Regions from separate parts of the Homo sapiens genome. Here region 2 is linked to region 1. The links come from fine-mapping of genetic effects on gene expression. Tissue or cell type: blood mononuclear cells. Region 1 holds a variant in brackets; the other region holds the start of a gene. All regions are shown on one strand. Distances are from middle to middle.

Region 1 (8,260 bases):
ATTTCTAAATTTTCTTCTTCTATCATAACGTCACCTCTCCCATTAAAATGATCTTAGTTCACATTAACACATACAAATCTTGAGTAATACATACCAATAGGTCAAATACACCTATAAAAAATAATTCACATAATGAATTCATATATATTTTTAAGGTGTCCAAAAGCCCCAAACAAGCATTTGGGAATAGTCCCTAACTTGGCAGCAGCCTCAAGTTCAGTACAAGATACCCGGCAGAGAGAGAGCACTGCTTTTTCATTGTTTGCACTGCTGTCAAATCCTACTCTTCAACTACCATCTCTGGACTCACAGCTTCCACCCTTTCACACAATTCATGTCATCAGACAGAGAAAGGTAAGCAATGAGAAAAATCACAGGGGTTACAGTTGGCACTGAAGTAGATTTATATCAGCAATAGGTTTTTTCCTTCTTGATGTGGAAGAACAAAGAACCTGAGCCTGTTTTGTCCATCACTTCTTATGGTTTTGATAACTGAGAATGAAACATAAACATGAGGCCAAAATGGCATGCAGGTAGCACTCTCCCCGCAAACCCCAGTCTAGCTCCAGCAAGTGATCATCTTAGCTGACTTTTCACTATATTCAGGCAGCCAAAAAGAAGTCCTGTTAGTGGTAGAATATGTTCATGAGACAAAGCAGATCCAAAATTTTCACAAGCAATACATACTTTTTAAAAGGAAAAGTAGACAGCCTAGTTAGTACTTAAGGCACAGAACTTTGTAGAGTATTAGAGAGAGTTATAGAATAAGCAAATGCTGAGGGCCGGGCGCAGTGGCTCACGTCTGTAATCCCAGCACTTTGGGAGGCCGAGGTGGGTGGATCACAAGGTCAGGAGTTCAAGACCAGCCTGGCCAAGATGGTAAAACCCCATCTCTACTAAAAATACAAAAAAATTAGCCAGGCGTGGTGGTGGGCGCCTGTAATCCCAGACACTCGGAAGGCTGAGGCAGAGAACTGCTTGAATCCAGGAGGCGGAGGTTGCAGTGAGCCGAGATCGCGCCACTGCACTCCAGCCTGGGCGACAGAGCGAGACTCATCTCAAAAAAAAAAAAAAGAAAAAAAAAAGAATAAGCAAATGCTCTGGAATAATGAACAAATCACGTTTTGAGTCAAAATAATATTCAAGAAAATACATGTTTTGATATTTTCATAAATCCAAGTTTCCCAATAGCCCACCCAGGAGGCAGAGATGGGCAGAGAGGGAGGAAGGGAAAGAAAAATGAAGGGAAAAGGGAAGGGAAAGCATAAGCTACTGAAGAGAAATTAAAAGTATCATATATTTTAAGGAAGATGATTCAATTTTCAGGTCCTTGAGGTTAACTGATGATTTCTACTATCTAACAGACTACCAGCATATTAAATTAAAAGCAATTAAGGTCATTTTTACGTGTAAGCAGGATTACCGTCTGTGATTGCACATGGAATGATCTTAGTCTAAAGCATTATAAATTCAGACAAAATACCTGCACTGCCAACCCATATCACCAGTTTTCTCATTTTCCTTAATCCTCTCTTCCCTAAGTAAAAAGCTCACTATTCCTTCTAATTTCCCAAAGAGAACTGTCACAATACCTTCTCCTGAAGTGCTTTCTTCCACTTTTTAAATGGACAGTTTTATTAAATTTACTAAAGAGACTATATTATTTACAGGGTGATGGCACAGTTTATGTTCAATTTTAAACAGGCCTGTATATTTCACACTAAAGTCTTCCAAAATTCATGGTGGAAACAGAGAGAGAACTGAGAAAGCTGCCAAAAAAGACAAGTAACACAAATGAAAAATAAAGAGTAGTTAAAACTAAGTTACTTGGCATTTCACCATCTTAAAGAACTGCTTTGAAAAACTCAAGGAAAAAAAAGGCTTCAAAAAGTTTTGTATATCATTAAGTGAAAAGTTGAAATTCACTCTACTGAACTAAACATAGGAAAATAAACATATGGAAAAGGCAAAATCCCTAAAAGCTATATTCATTTTATATATTAATTGAATGCATAAACTTAGAACTCAGAGGTGAGCTTAAATCCCCCCTTGACACTTATTACTGACACCATTTCTGCAAGCTTTATTTCTTCATCTGTCAACGGAAGGTAATAATCTATCCTCACTGCGTTAATGTGAAGATTAA[A/G]TAACATACGCAAAAGCCATTCAGCACTACGCTTGCTACTTAACACTTTCGTTAATGATTCCTCAATTTTAAGACACATATTTTCAATATTTTAACATTTCTGATATAAGGGTAACATTTACAATGTGAATATTTCATGTGGTAGTTTTTAAAATCAGTAAGTTCTTAAAATCAATGGCTTATTAGAATCAGTAAATACTATACTAATATTAATTTTTTTTTTGAGACAAAGTCTTGATCTTGTCACCCAGGATGGAGTGCAGTGGTGTGATCCTGGCTCACTGCAACCTCCGCCTCCAGGGTTCAAGCAATTCTCCTGCCTCAGCCTCCCAAGTAGCTGGGATTATAGGCATGCACCACCATGCCTGGCTAATTTTGTATTTTTAGTAGAGATGGGGTTTCACCATGTTGACCAGGCTGGTCTCAAACTCCTGACCTCAGGTGATCTGCCCACCTTGGCCTCCTAAAATGCTGGGATTACAGGCGTGAGCCACCGAGCCCGGCCTTAACACTAAATATAAATGTCACTTTCTTTTCATAGCCATTCTTAATTTCCTCCCGCCACAAGCCAAGTTAGTTTTCTTTCTCTACGTTCTCATAACAGTTAGTGAACTGTTTTATAACTGTTCACCTATCCAGCAACTCTATAACAGATGACCTTTTTGAGAGTAAAACTCTAGCTTATTTATATACCAAGGATCCCACACAATGGTAAGGTGTACAAATTAGGCAGACTTACTAAACACTCTGGGGATGCTTGATAAAATTAAATGTTTTTAAGAAAATATGTAATTAACAGAGCTGAACAAAAGGCAGAACTAAGAACACTATCATGCAAGGGTGATATAATGATTTGTCCAGCCAACTATGACTTGTTCCTGAAAGTAGGGATAACCACACAGAGTATTCCCCTTTCTTCTCTCTGGCTGAGATTACCAAGTAAGCCTACCTCCTGATCCCCATCTGGAAACACAAGTTACTTCAAGGAGGAGTTGATCATGGCTGCTAAGAACCAAGCTGGCAGGTAAGATCCAAGCCCAGTTCCTCAATAGTAGGTCACAACGATAACAGAAACTAAAAAATGGATCACCAAACTGGGGACCACAGAAAAGAAACAGAGACTCCCCCCAACCTCACTGAAGTTTTCATATAGTGCTTGCAATCTCTGAGCATCATCTCCTGCCTATGTCTGTCACATTCTGCAACTTACTGATAAAGCTCACCACTGCCAATACCTCCCAGGCACCTCTTGCTAGCTCTTTGAGATTCTTTGAACTCTGCAAGTGGTTCTTTTAAACTCTGCACCAACTGGACTTATCCTTTATAAAACACCTGCATGCCCTCATTTAGTTTTTGTTTCTGGACCTCCTCACAGATAGTCATCTTCTGCTCCTCTCTCAGAACTGCCCACTTGTGTGAGTAATAAATCTTTCTTTAATCATACCACAGGACTGCTGTCATGAGTTCTGACATCTGAACTTAACCTTGGAAGGAAGCTTCCCTTCACCACAGTGAAGCTGTAATAATATCTAAGAAGACAATGTCAGCAGTGATGGCAAAGCTTTGGAAAAATCTCCATGAATCCTCCATGTGAAAACAGAGAACAACTAGGTAATGAACCCCAAATCCCATGGACAACATTCACAACAAAGCTAGGTAAAACCCAAGATACAAAATGGTAGAGAAAACTACCAACAGCCATTAAGATATGACTGATATTGGCACCTCTGCAGGATATGAGAAAGAAACAATAGGACATCTGGCAGGACAGAACACATAAAACAGACAACATTGGAAAGCTTAGTAGACCAATCTGAGAACAGCAACCAGCTATGAGGTGTTCTGGCCACTTCAAGAGTAAGTGAATACAATGAATTCATCGTCAGGCACTGAAAGGTCTAGCACTATACTTTAACCTATTGTGAACTCTCAAAATTGTCCTTCCCGGGCTCCCTTCCAGACAAAGCGTCATACTGAAGAGAAATCACTGGGAGCGGACTGAAAAGTGTGCATGATTGGTACAGGAGAACAATGGGAAAATAAGGTACAGAAAAAAGCAGAAAAAGTAAAGTGGGAGAGCCAGGAAATCCAGAAAGCTAGCTGCCATTATTTTTTAAACACATATACATAGACATGAGAGTTCTGTGAAACTGGAGAACTTATGAACTCTGCCTTCTTCTGAATGTTCAAGCAAAACAGTTTCACCTGAAAATAAGAAAACAAATTACTAACATCAAATCCCATTAATAAGTTAATATTAAAAATAAGAAAAGGATAAAGTGAAGAATAACATTCCTACAGACAATAAAAAAGTATGCCAGAAAGATATAGAAATAGAACAAATTAAACTGATAACTTATTTCAAAACAGTCAAAGTATTTAAAGTAAGATACTAGTCATAAATGAACAACACAAATTAGAATCAGACAACTCACAAGTGAGGGGACAGAACTTGAAAGAATGAGAAATACAAAAATACATCATTTCAGAAATGAAGTCTACGAAATAAGAATGAATAAACATAATACATAAAGAAAAAAATGAAAAGGAAGAAATATTACATAATAGAAAAAAATATTTTCAAAAAATAAAATATTTGAAGGACAAAGGACAAGGAAGAGAACAGAACTATACTGGAACAAGGAAATGACTCCAGATGGTAACTTGAACCCTCAGGAAAAATGAAGAATACCAGAAATAGTAAATATGCAGGTTAATAAAAAAGACTCTATAAATAATGTTTTCTCTTTTTCCTTTAACCTTTTTAACAGACATAAGATTGTATAAAGCAATAAGTATAACCCTGTGTTAGATATAATAGAAATGAACTATAAATGACAATAATAGCAGAAAGGATGGGAGAGAGAATGGAGATATACTTAGAGTAAAATGTATGTACTTTTCATAATTAAGTTAATATTACCACAAAGTAGATTTTGACAAAATGCACGTTGCAATCCCTAAAATAATTACCTTTAAAATCCCCAAAATACAGTTTAAAATTATCAACCAAGGAATCAAAATGACACACCAGAAAATATCTACTTAATACAAAGGACAAAGGAACAAAGATGACATAAGATAATTTAAAAAAAAAAAAACACTAAAATGTCAGACATAAGCCCAACCATATCATTAATGACATTCAATGTGAATAAACACACCAATCAAAAGGCAAAGGCTGTTAGACTGAATAAAGCAAAGGTTACACTATATGCTGTTTATAAAAGCACATTTTACATTCAAAGATACAAATAGATTGAAAAGAAAAGGTTACAGTAGACAGTAACCATAAGAGAGCTGGAGCAGCTCTATCAGACAAAAAAGATTTTAAGTATAAAAAGGTAACTAGAGATACAGTGGCAGGTTTTATGAGAAAGAGTCATCAGGAAGTTACAATTAGAAACATACAGGTACCTAAAAACAGAGCCCCAGAACAAATGAAGCAAAACCTGACAGAAATCAAAGGAAAAATGGGCAGTTCAATAATATAGTTGGAGAGCTCAACACCCTATTCTCACTAAAGGAAAGAACAACTAGATAGAAAATTACCAAGGATATAGAAAATTTGAACATTATTAACCAACTTAACCTACTATCTATAGAACATTCCATGCAACAAAAGAATACACAATCTTTTCACGTACACGTGGAACTTTCTCCAGGACACCACATGCTAGGAGACAGAATTAATCTTAAAAGACTGAACTCATATAAAATAAAAAGACTGAACTCATATAAAATAGACTACTATCTGACCATAATGAAATTCATGAAGAAATCAACGGAAGAAAATTTGGGAAATCAAATTATTTTCTAAATTTTTGAAATTTCTTTCTCAATTTCCTCTAAATCAGCAATGAGTCGAGGAAGAAATTACAATAAAAGTTTTTAAATATTTTGAGCTAAAAGAAAATGAAAATACAAAATATGGAAACGTATATAGAATACTAATGCCTATACTAGAAAAGAAGAGAGATTACAAATCAATTATTTATGATTTGACCTTAAGAAACTGTAAGAAGAGTAGATTAAATCCAAAGCAAGTGTAAGGAAGAAAATAAAAACATTAGGGTTAAAAAAAAAAAAGGCAATGAAACAGAAAACAGAAAAACAATAAAGGGGGAAAAATCAATAAAACCAGAAGCTGGTTGTTCTTTGAAAAGACCCACAAAATTGACAACCCTTTAGTGCTAGACTGACCCAAAAAAAAAGACGCAAATTGTGAAAACTGTGAATAAAGTGATGAATGAAAGAGAAACACTGCCTTACAGAAATTAAAAGGATTATTAGGCAATACCATAAACAACTTTATGCCAACAAATTAGACAAATTTATGAAACAAAAATATTCCTGGAAAAAAACCAAATTACTAAAACTGACTCAAGAAGAAACAGAAAATCTGATAGATCTACAACAAACAAGGAAATTGAATTTGTAATTAATATCTTCCCAAAAAGAAATCCCCATGCCCAGATGGCAGGAAAAGTTGTATCAACTGGTCACACACTTTTCCAGAAAACAAAGAAAGAGGAAATATCTTCCGACTCTATGAGGCTGATATTATGCTAATCTCAAAACCAAATAAACACAAGAAAAACAGACTACGGATTAATATCCTTCACTATTAAAGACATAAAAATCCTCAACAGAATATTAGCAAACCAAATCTAACAACATTTCAAAAGAAGTATAAACCACGACCAAGTAGAACTTACCCCAGAAATGCAAGATCGGTTTAACAACTGAAAACCAATTACTGAAATTCACCATGTTCATAAAATAAAGAATAAAACCACATAATCATTTCCATAGATGCAGAAAAAGGAACGGACAAAATCCAGTAATTATTCATGGTAAATCTGTCCATGAACTAGGAATAGAAAGGAACTTCCTCAACCTGATAAAATCCCTTTATTAAAAAAACCTACAGGTAATATCATGCTCAAGACTATTTTTAATCTTTTTTAAAAAATAAAGCCAATACAGAGAAAAACATACAAAACAAACATATAGCTTAACAAGTTACTATAAGGCAAACACTCTTGTAACCACGAATTCACTCAGATGAAGGAAAAAAACTTGATCTGGGTGAATCACCCAGACGACTTCAAAAGGCCCTGCATGAACCCTGTCCCAATCCCTCCCTCTCCATAGAAGTAACAATTATTCTGATTTTCTATTAGTCACTTTCTTGCCTTTATAGTTTTATTGCTTTTTGTAAGTGTGCATCCACAGAAAAATAGTTTAGTCTTAAGCCCCATTTTCATTTGCTATTTCTTTTAAAGTCTCTGTTTTAAAAAATGTTTAACTGGTACATAATAATTACACATATTTGTGGGGTACACAGCAATGTTGCAATATATATAAGGTACCGTGATCAGCTCAGGGTAATCAGCATATCCATAATCTCAAACATTTAACATTTCTGTGTTGGAAACATTCAGTATCCTCTTTGAAATTATATAATGTTTTACCTATTAAGTACAGTCATCCTACAGTGGTATAGAATACTCAAGCTTTTTCTAACTGTAATTCTGTATTTTTTAGCAAATCTCTTCTTATCTCTTCCTTCCCAGCCTCTAGTATCCCCTATTCTACTCTTTACTTTTGCAAGATCAACATTTACCTTCCACATACGAGTGAGAACATGCATGGTTTAATTTTCTGTTCCTGGTCCTATGTCACTTAAGATAACATCCTCCAGGTCTATCCATATTGCTGAGAATGACAGGATTTCATTCTTTTTATGGCTAAATGGTATTCCATTGTGTATATATACCACATTTTCTTTATCTATTCATCTGATGTTGGACACCTAGGTTGATACCACATCTTGGCTACTGTAAATAGTGCTGCAACAAACATAGGGGTGCAGATGTCTCGATACACTGATTTCCTTTCCTTTGGGTAAATGCCAAGTAGTGGGACTACTGGATCATATGGTAGTTCTATTTGTAATTTTTTGAGGAACTTCCATACTGTTCTCCATAGCGGCTGTACTAGTTTATACTCCCACCAACAGTGTATAAGAGTTCCCTTTTCTGTGCATTCTTGACCGTATTATTTTTTGTCTTTTTGGTAATAGCCATATGGTAACTAGGGTGAGATGAT
Region 2 (6,218 bases), 75 kb after region 1:
CACACCAATGCACTCCAGCCTGGGCAACAGAGCAAGAATCCGTCTCAAAAAAAAAAAAAAGAATGTGTGAATCTGCACCTGTAATCCCAGAACTCCGAGAGGCGGAGGTGGGAGGATCACTTGAGCCCAGGAGTTTAAGACCATCCTGGGCAACATAGCAAAACTCTGGCTCTATAAAAATTAGCCAAGTGTTATGGCACACAACTGTGGTCCCAGCTACTTGGGAGGCTGAGGTGGGAAGATCACATGAACACAGGAGGTCCAGGCTGCAGTGAGCAGCGATCATGCCACTGCACTCCAGCCTAGGCAACAGAGCAAGACCCTACCTCCAAAAAAAAAATAGGAATTCGTGAACCTGGCCAAGCATGGTGGCTCACACCTGTAACCTGTAATCCCAGCACTTTGAGAGGATCACTTGAGGCCAGGAGTTGGAGACCAGCCTGGGCAACATATCAAGACACCCCCACACCAACCCCATATCTACAAAAAATTGGGGGCATAGTGGCACGTGCCTATAGTTCAGAGCTTTGGGAGGATGAAGCAGGAGGATCACTTAAGCCCAAGACTTTGAGACTGCAATGAGCTGTGATTACACCACTGCACCCCAGACTGAGTGATGAAGCAAGACTTTGTCTCTTTAAAAAAAAAAAAATTGTGAACGTTATACAAATTAAATCTCAAATCATGAAAGCATTTGAGGATATGTCCCTGAACAAGCAAAAATTATAGCAAAAAGTAACATTAACAAGGTACTCCATATTATTTCATTTAAAACACCCAATAACCCTGCAAACTAGTCAGGTATCATTATCCACACTACCAGTAAAGAAACTGAGACCTAGAGAAGCGGACTAGACCAGAACCACAAAGTTATGAAGTTGTGACACTTGGGCTTTAAATCCAAGATTTTAGTATTGAAATTCCCAAATCTTTCCTTTATACCTTGTCATGTGATGATAGAGATAGGGACACAGCACTAACAGTATTCCCTGGCTTTCTGCTACTAATTCAACAGGGCTACAGGACAGAAGGTCTCCCAGACTCTCACATACCCCATCACACCCAGCCAATGTTAAAGCCCCAATTCTTTGTGGGGGAAAAAAATGACCTAAATGCAACAAATCAATCAGATTTTTCTCCTTGGAGTCCAAGGTTGACTAAATATCTTTACTATAACAGAGGATGACATTCTCAAAGAATGAATTAATTCTAAATTATGAACAAAAATATTTTACATCAAAAGACAGTTTTACTTCAAATAATATGTACTCACAGCTAAGTACAGTACTGTTACATATTAGAAGACCACCTTACACCATATTTCGCCACATTTAAAACGAGAGCTCCACTTCTGAAAACTTTGCTAGTGGAAACGAGACAATTTAAACTATTACCTCTTCCAGGTCTTGTTACATAAATAAGTGCAACCTATCTAAATTCCAATAATGAACAAACCCAGCTCTGGTCTCAAAGCTGGTGTTAAACAAACGGCATTTACATCACACGCTTCTCCTCCAAGAAATACAACTAGACAACCAGAAACATCCCAAGTTATAAGTTTTCCCACGACTCTAACCAATCAGCTGGTTCTCATATTTGTCAGCCCTATTAACCTTATGTCTTAAAATACATACATATTCTTATGTCAAATATAGTTGTTTCTAACAGCTACAGCAAAACCCCTTTCAATAGAGTATGCCAATAATAAAATAAGTATATACTTATGAAACCTCTCCAGTACGTAACACTTCATTAAAATTTCTGCCACAAAAATCTAATGAACACTACCTTTCCGGGGTTTACATGTGGGAAAACTTTGTAATATGCTTAGAGTATCAAGTAATATAACATGCAAACACAATGCTGCATTACTACAGAGTAACTGAAGAAAGTATTTCTCCTCCTCCAAAAAAAAACTCAATCATTCTCATCCGAAATACATATACACAGTACACGCAAAAATATACACCTGTCACAGACTATTAGTTACTATTAGTGTTCTGTAAACTTAAATTAGTTTGGAGAACTTAACAAAAGTTTAGCTTGTTAACACCTAAAAATCTCCAGCGACCAGCGGTCACATGCCTGAAAAGAACTTACTATGAACGCCAGTAAGAACTTTACCAAACCAAAACTACAAGCCACCGTATCGAGCAGTACTTAAATTCCTCTGCTGGTAAATGCTCCACAGCCATCACAGCCATCTCAAGTTCAACACTAAATAGTTTGAGAAGAGCTGCCGACGGGCCAGTCAAAAATCTTTGTGAACTGTCACAAAAGTCACAGAGCATGTGTCAGCTTTGCAGTCCAATTCAAAACATCATAGTGCCATCGAATTCAAGCGATTCCCAGAGCAAATTATCTCGAACAGCCTATGCAATTTACCAAAGTGCCAAGCAGTCCCCAGGGGTGCAGAGCAAATTATCATTTTGGTCCCAGGACCGGCTCCTCTTCACACGAGGATGAATTTCCCTACTTAGTGCCAACTGTACACTTGCATACTCCGAAAATAGGGGCAAGCCGTGAATACCAGAGGTTACAAGGGCAATGTTTTATTTTATTATGGGCTGAAGCTCAGAAGGCTCCCAATGCTGAAACGCTCGACCTATAACCCCGGAGTCACTTTCCAACTGCGCTCTCACCCAGGGTCATTATATCCCAAACGGAAGCCAATCATTACCTGTAACAAGGCCTGGAAAAAATAGCAAGAGGGCTTTAAAAGTTCACCTAAGAAACACCGAAACGGGGTGGGGAGTGGGTGGCGGGGCTTCGATGGATAAGGCCAACCTTAAAGCATCTCGGACTCAAACATTTTAAAAGCCAAAATACGTACAAAGACCCTTTTCCCTGGAAGACCCCAGGCAGAGAGAGGCACACAGACACTCAGTCATCCCGACAGCATGGGGTGCCAAGGGTTCCCTAAGACCAGCAGCCGGGATCGAAGCTCCGATGTGTCCGGGGAAGGTCTGGGAAGCCAGGCCAGGTCCGCATTGTGGCCGGGCGGTGCACGCAGCCCCTGCTCCCGGGCCCCTTTCTCTCCCCCTCCCCACGACCAGGCCTCTCCCCGCTCCTCTCCCCTTCTCCCTTCCTCCGTCCCTCCCCTCCCCCTAGACACATACAACAAGGCCACCTCCCCCCGAACCCCACCAACTTTCCAGTGCCCCCACTCTTCCCACCTCTCAGGAGCACACAGAAGCTGCAGGCCAGGAGGCTCCTCAGGACGGCCCCCATCTTCCCTTCTCGCGTTCTCTTCTCTCACCGGCGAGGGGTGGCCAGAAGTGGGGGAGGCGAGGAGCCGGGGCGGCCGCCGCAGCGGCAGGGCTGCACGCTCATACTTCCCAGCTTCCCAGCGAGAGAAGAAAGAAAGGGGCACGTCAAGGTTCCGCGCGCGCCGCCGCCGCCCTCTCTACCGCGCCGCTCGGCCCCGGGCTCGCGCGACGCCAGCGTCTGCTTCCATCCCGCCGCCTCCTCCCCCGGCGCCCCGCTTCCCCCGCGCAGCTCCTCATTCAGCCTCTGCCTCGCGCAGCGGCGCAGGGATACGGTCGGCACCGCCTCCTAGGGTCGCCGCGACCGTGTCCCTGCGCGCAACGAGCCCCTTCTCCCGGTACTGCCTCCTGTACGGCCAGGGAAGGGAGTCGGCAACCGCACGCACAGCCTCTGCCTGAGACCCTGGGAGAGGTTCTGGGCTAGCAGAGGCGAACTGGGAGGGAAAGCCTCCTCCCGGTGGCGCATTCCAGCGGGATTCTTTCCCGGACCGGCCGCTTCGGCCCTCCCCGCGGAGGGCGTGAGGCGGCGTTGAACAACATTGGAGCCGGCGTGGTCGGGACTACTTTCTGCGGCTCGGCCGGGCAGCCGTCTGCCCCGCTCTTTGTGCGGCCGCCGCCGGCAGGGCCAGGTGGGGCTCCGGTCTCGCGCCCCCAGCCACCTGAGACTGCCCAGCCGCGGTGCACGCGCGGGGAGCCACGGCGGATCCCGTTGCGGGGTGATGAGCTCCGTCTTCGGGGTTGGAAATCGGTTTCAGCATCCTTTTTTTGGGAGGGCGGAATTTTTGAACGCTGTTTACACCGGCTTTCAGCGTGGATCTGGTGAACGATATTAAAACGCCAATTCAAAACTGAGATTGTCATTTTTCTCCCGCCTTCCCAGAAATACAAACTGCCCCCAGAATTAAGCCCGACCAGCTAAAGATTTCTAAACTGGCAGATAAAATTCCAAGATAAATGCCTCAAAACCTAAGAGCAAAGGGACAATTGGACAAGACTATTTAGGATTTTACAAGTTGCATATAATAACGAATGTTTGGCATGCTTCGATTATCAATTCTCAGCTTGAGAAGGAAAAGATTCCCTAGAATCTCAGACTGTGCACAGCCTCTGCTACTCCCAGTGCATTGGGCATTCAGGAGTAATGGCCCAGACGCCCCCTGAAATCACCTGCCAGGCTTTCGTCTGGGCAGAGGCGCTCCAACAGTTAACCCTAATGGAGCCATCAGATGCATCCTGCCCAGCTGTCACACGCCCTTACCTGGAGGCAGATGGGCAAGAAAGTGGAGCTGCTACCACAATGTTAACAAGTACCTCAGTGACATTGGAGTTCACTAGTGCTTGAACACAAGTTATCATATTTGACACTCAAAACTACCCTGGGGAAAGGCAGGTTTTGTTACTTATTCTTTATTGCACAGAGGAGCAAAATGAGAACCTGAGAGGTTAATGACTTACCCAGGGCCACTCAAGTAATGAATAGCAGTACCTCAGCCCAATCCAGGTCTCTGACTTAAGCCACTCCGCTCCTTCCAAGAAATGCGCGCTGAACCAAAGGTGCTGCAGGTTTGTAAGTAGATGGACAGCAGAAACAGCCAAATCACTTTCTCCCAAATTCACCTGAGGTCTAGTCACCGTTTATTTAAATGACCTGCTTCTAAGAACCAAGTGAGTTTTGTATTCTGGCTTCCTCAAAGCAGGAAACTGGGCCGGGGGCGGGTGGCTCAGGCCTGTAATCCCAGCACTTTGGGAGGCCGAGGCGGACAGATCACGAGGTCAGGAGTTCGAGACCAGCCTGGTCCAACATGGTGAAACCCCCGTCTCTACTAAAAATACAAAAAAAATTAGCCGGGCATGGTGGCACACGCCTGTCATCCCAGCTGCTCAGGAGGCAGAGGCAGGAGAATGGCTTGAATCCAGGAGGCGCAGGTTGCAGTGAGCCGATATCGCGTCATTACACTCCAGCCTGGGCAACAGAGCAAGATTGCGTCTCAGAAAAAAAAAAAAAAAGAAAAGAAAGTTAACCTTCACTTTCACAGGCCCCTTCCAATGTCTGGGGAGGGGCCTTTATGGTATGTTCACATGGTCCTATTTGCAAAACAAAGATAATTTTGAATTCCTCTTCTGTATAATTGTATTATACAAAATTGTATAAGCTTCAAGTCCCACAAAGCCTGGATCTGTCCCTATTTATAATAGAAAATGCGGTACAACTGGCCGGGCACGGTGGCTCACGGCTGTAATCCCAGCACTTTGGGAGGCCGAGGCAGGCGGATCACGAGGTCAGGAGATCGAGACCATCTTGGCTAACACGGTGAAACCCCGTCTCTACTAAAAATACAAAAAATTAGCCGGGCGCGGTGGCGGGCGCCTGTAATCCCAGCTACTCAGGAGGCTGAAGCAGGAGAATGGCGTGAACCCGGGAGGCGGAGCTTGCAGTGAGCCTAGATAGCGCCACTGCAGTCCAGCCTGGGCGAAAGAGCGAGACTCCGTCTCGAAAAAAATAAAATAAAATAAAAAAGAAAATGCGGTACAACCTAAATCTCCTCAGACTATCAACCTAAGTAGGGGAATGAGATATTACACACTGCTGAAAAATAATAATTTAGAGGATTATGCAACAGTGTTGAATGTTTATAGTGAGTTAAGCTTTTTTTTTTTTTTTTTTTTTTTTTGAGACGGAGTTGTGCTCTTGCTGCCTGGACTGGAGTAAAATGGCACAATCCCGGCTCACCACAACTTCCTCCTCCCAGGTTCAAGTGATTGTCCTGCCTCATCCTCCTGAGTAGCTGGGATTACAGGCATGCGCCACCACACCCAGCTAATTTTGTATCTTTAGTAGAGACGGGCTTTCTCCATGTTGGTCAGGCTGGTCTCGAACTACCGACCTCAAGTGATCCGCTCTCCTTGGCCTCCCAAAGGGCTGGGATTACAGGCGTAAGCCACCGCGCCCGG

What was found. PIP is the estimated chance that this variant, and not a neighbour inherited with it, causes the effect.
Region 2: LRP6 starts here. The variant in region 1 is fine-mapped to the expression of LRP6 in blood mononuclear cells (TOPMed, PIP above 0.99).

The regions. Positions count from the first base shown.
Region 1 is chr12:12,187,150-12,195,409 of GRCh38, forward strand. The region is part of intron 3 of LRP6 (LDL receptor related protein 6); the gene reads right to left. Among named protein-coding and RNA genes, the nearest start is that of LRP6, 76 kb to the right of the region's middle. RefSeq lists a silencer at 3,806-4,100. The variant A/G (reference allele first, on the strand shown) is at 2,147.
Region 2 is chr12:12,263,505-12,269,722 of GRCh38, forward strand. It overlaps LRP6 (LDL receptor related protein 6), which reads right to left and starts at 3,540. Exons shown (of 23, transcript NM_002336.3): 1 at 3,177-3,540. The coding sequence starts at 3,231. RefSeq lists enhancers at 1-370, 3,547-4,183, 3,721-3,770 and a silencer at 3,231-3,540.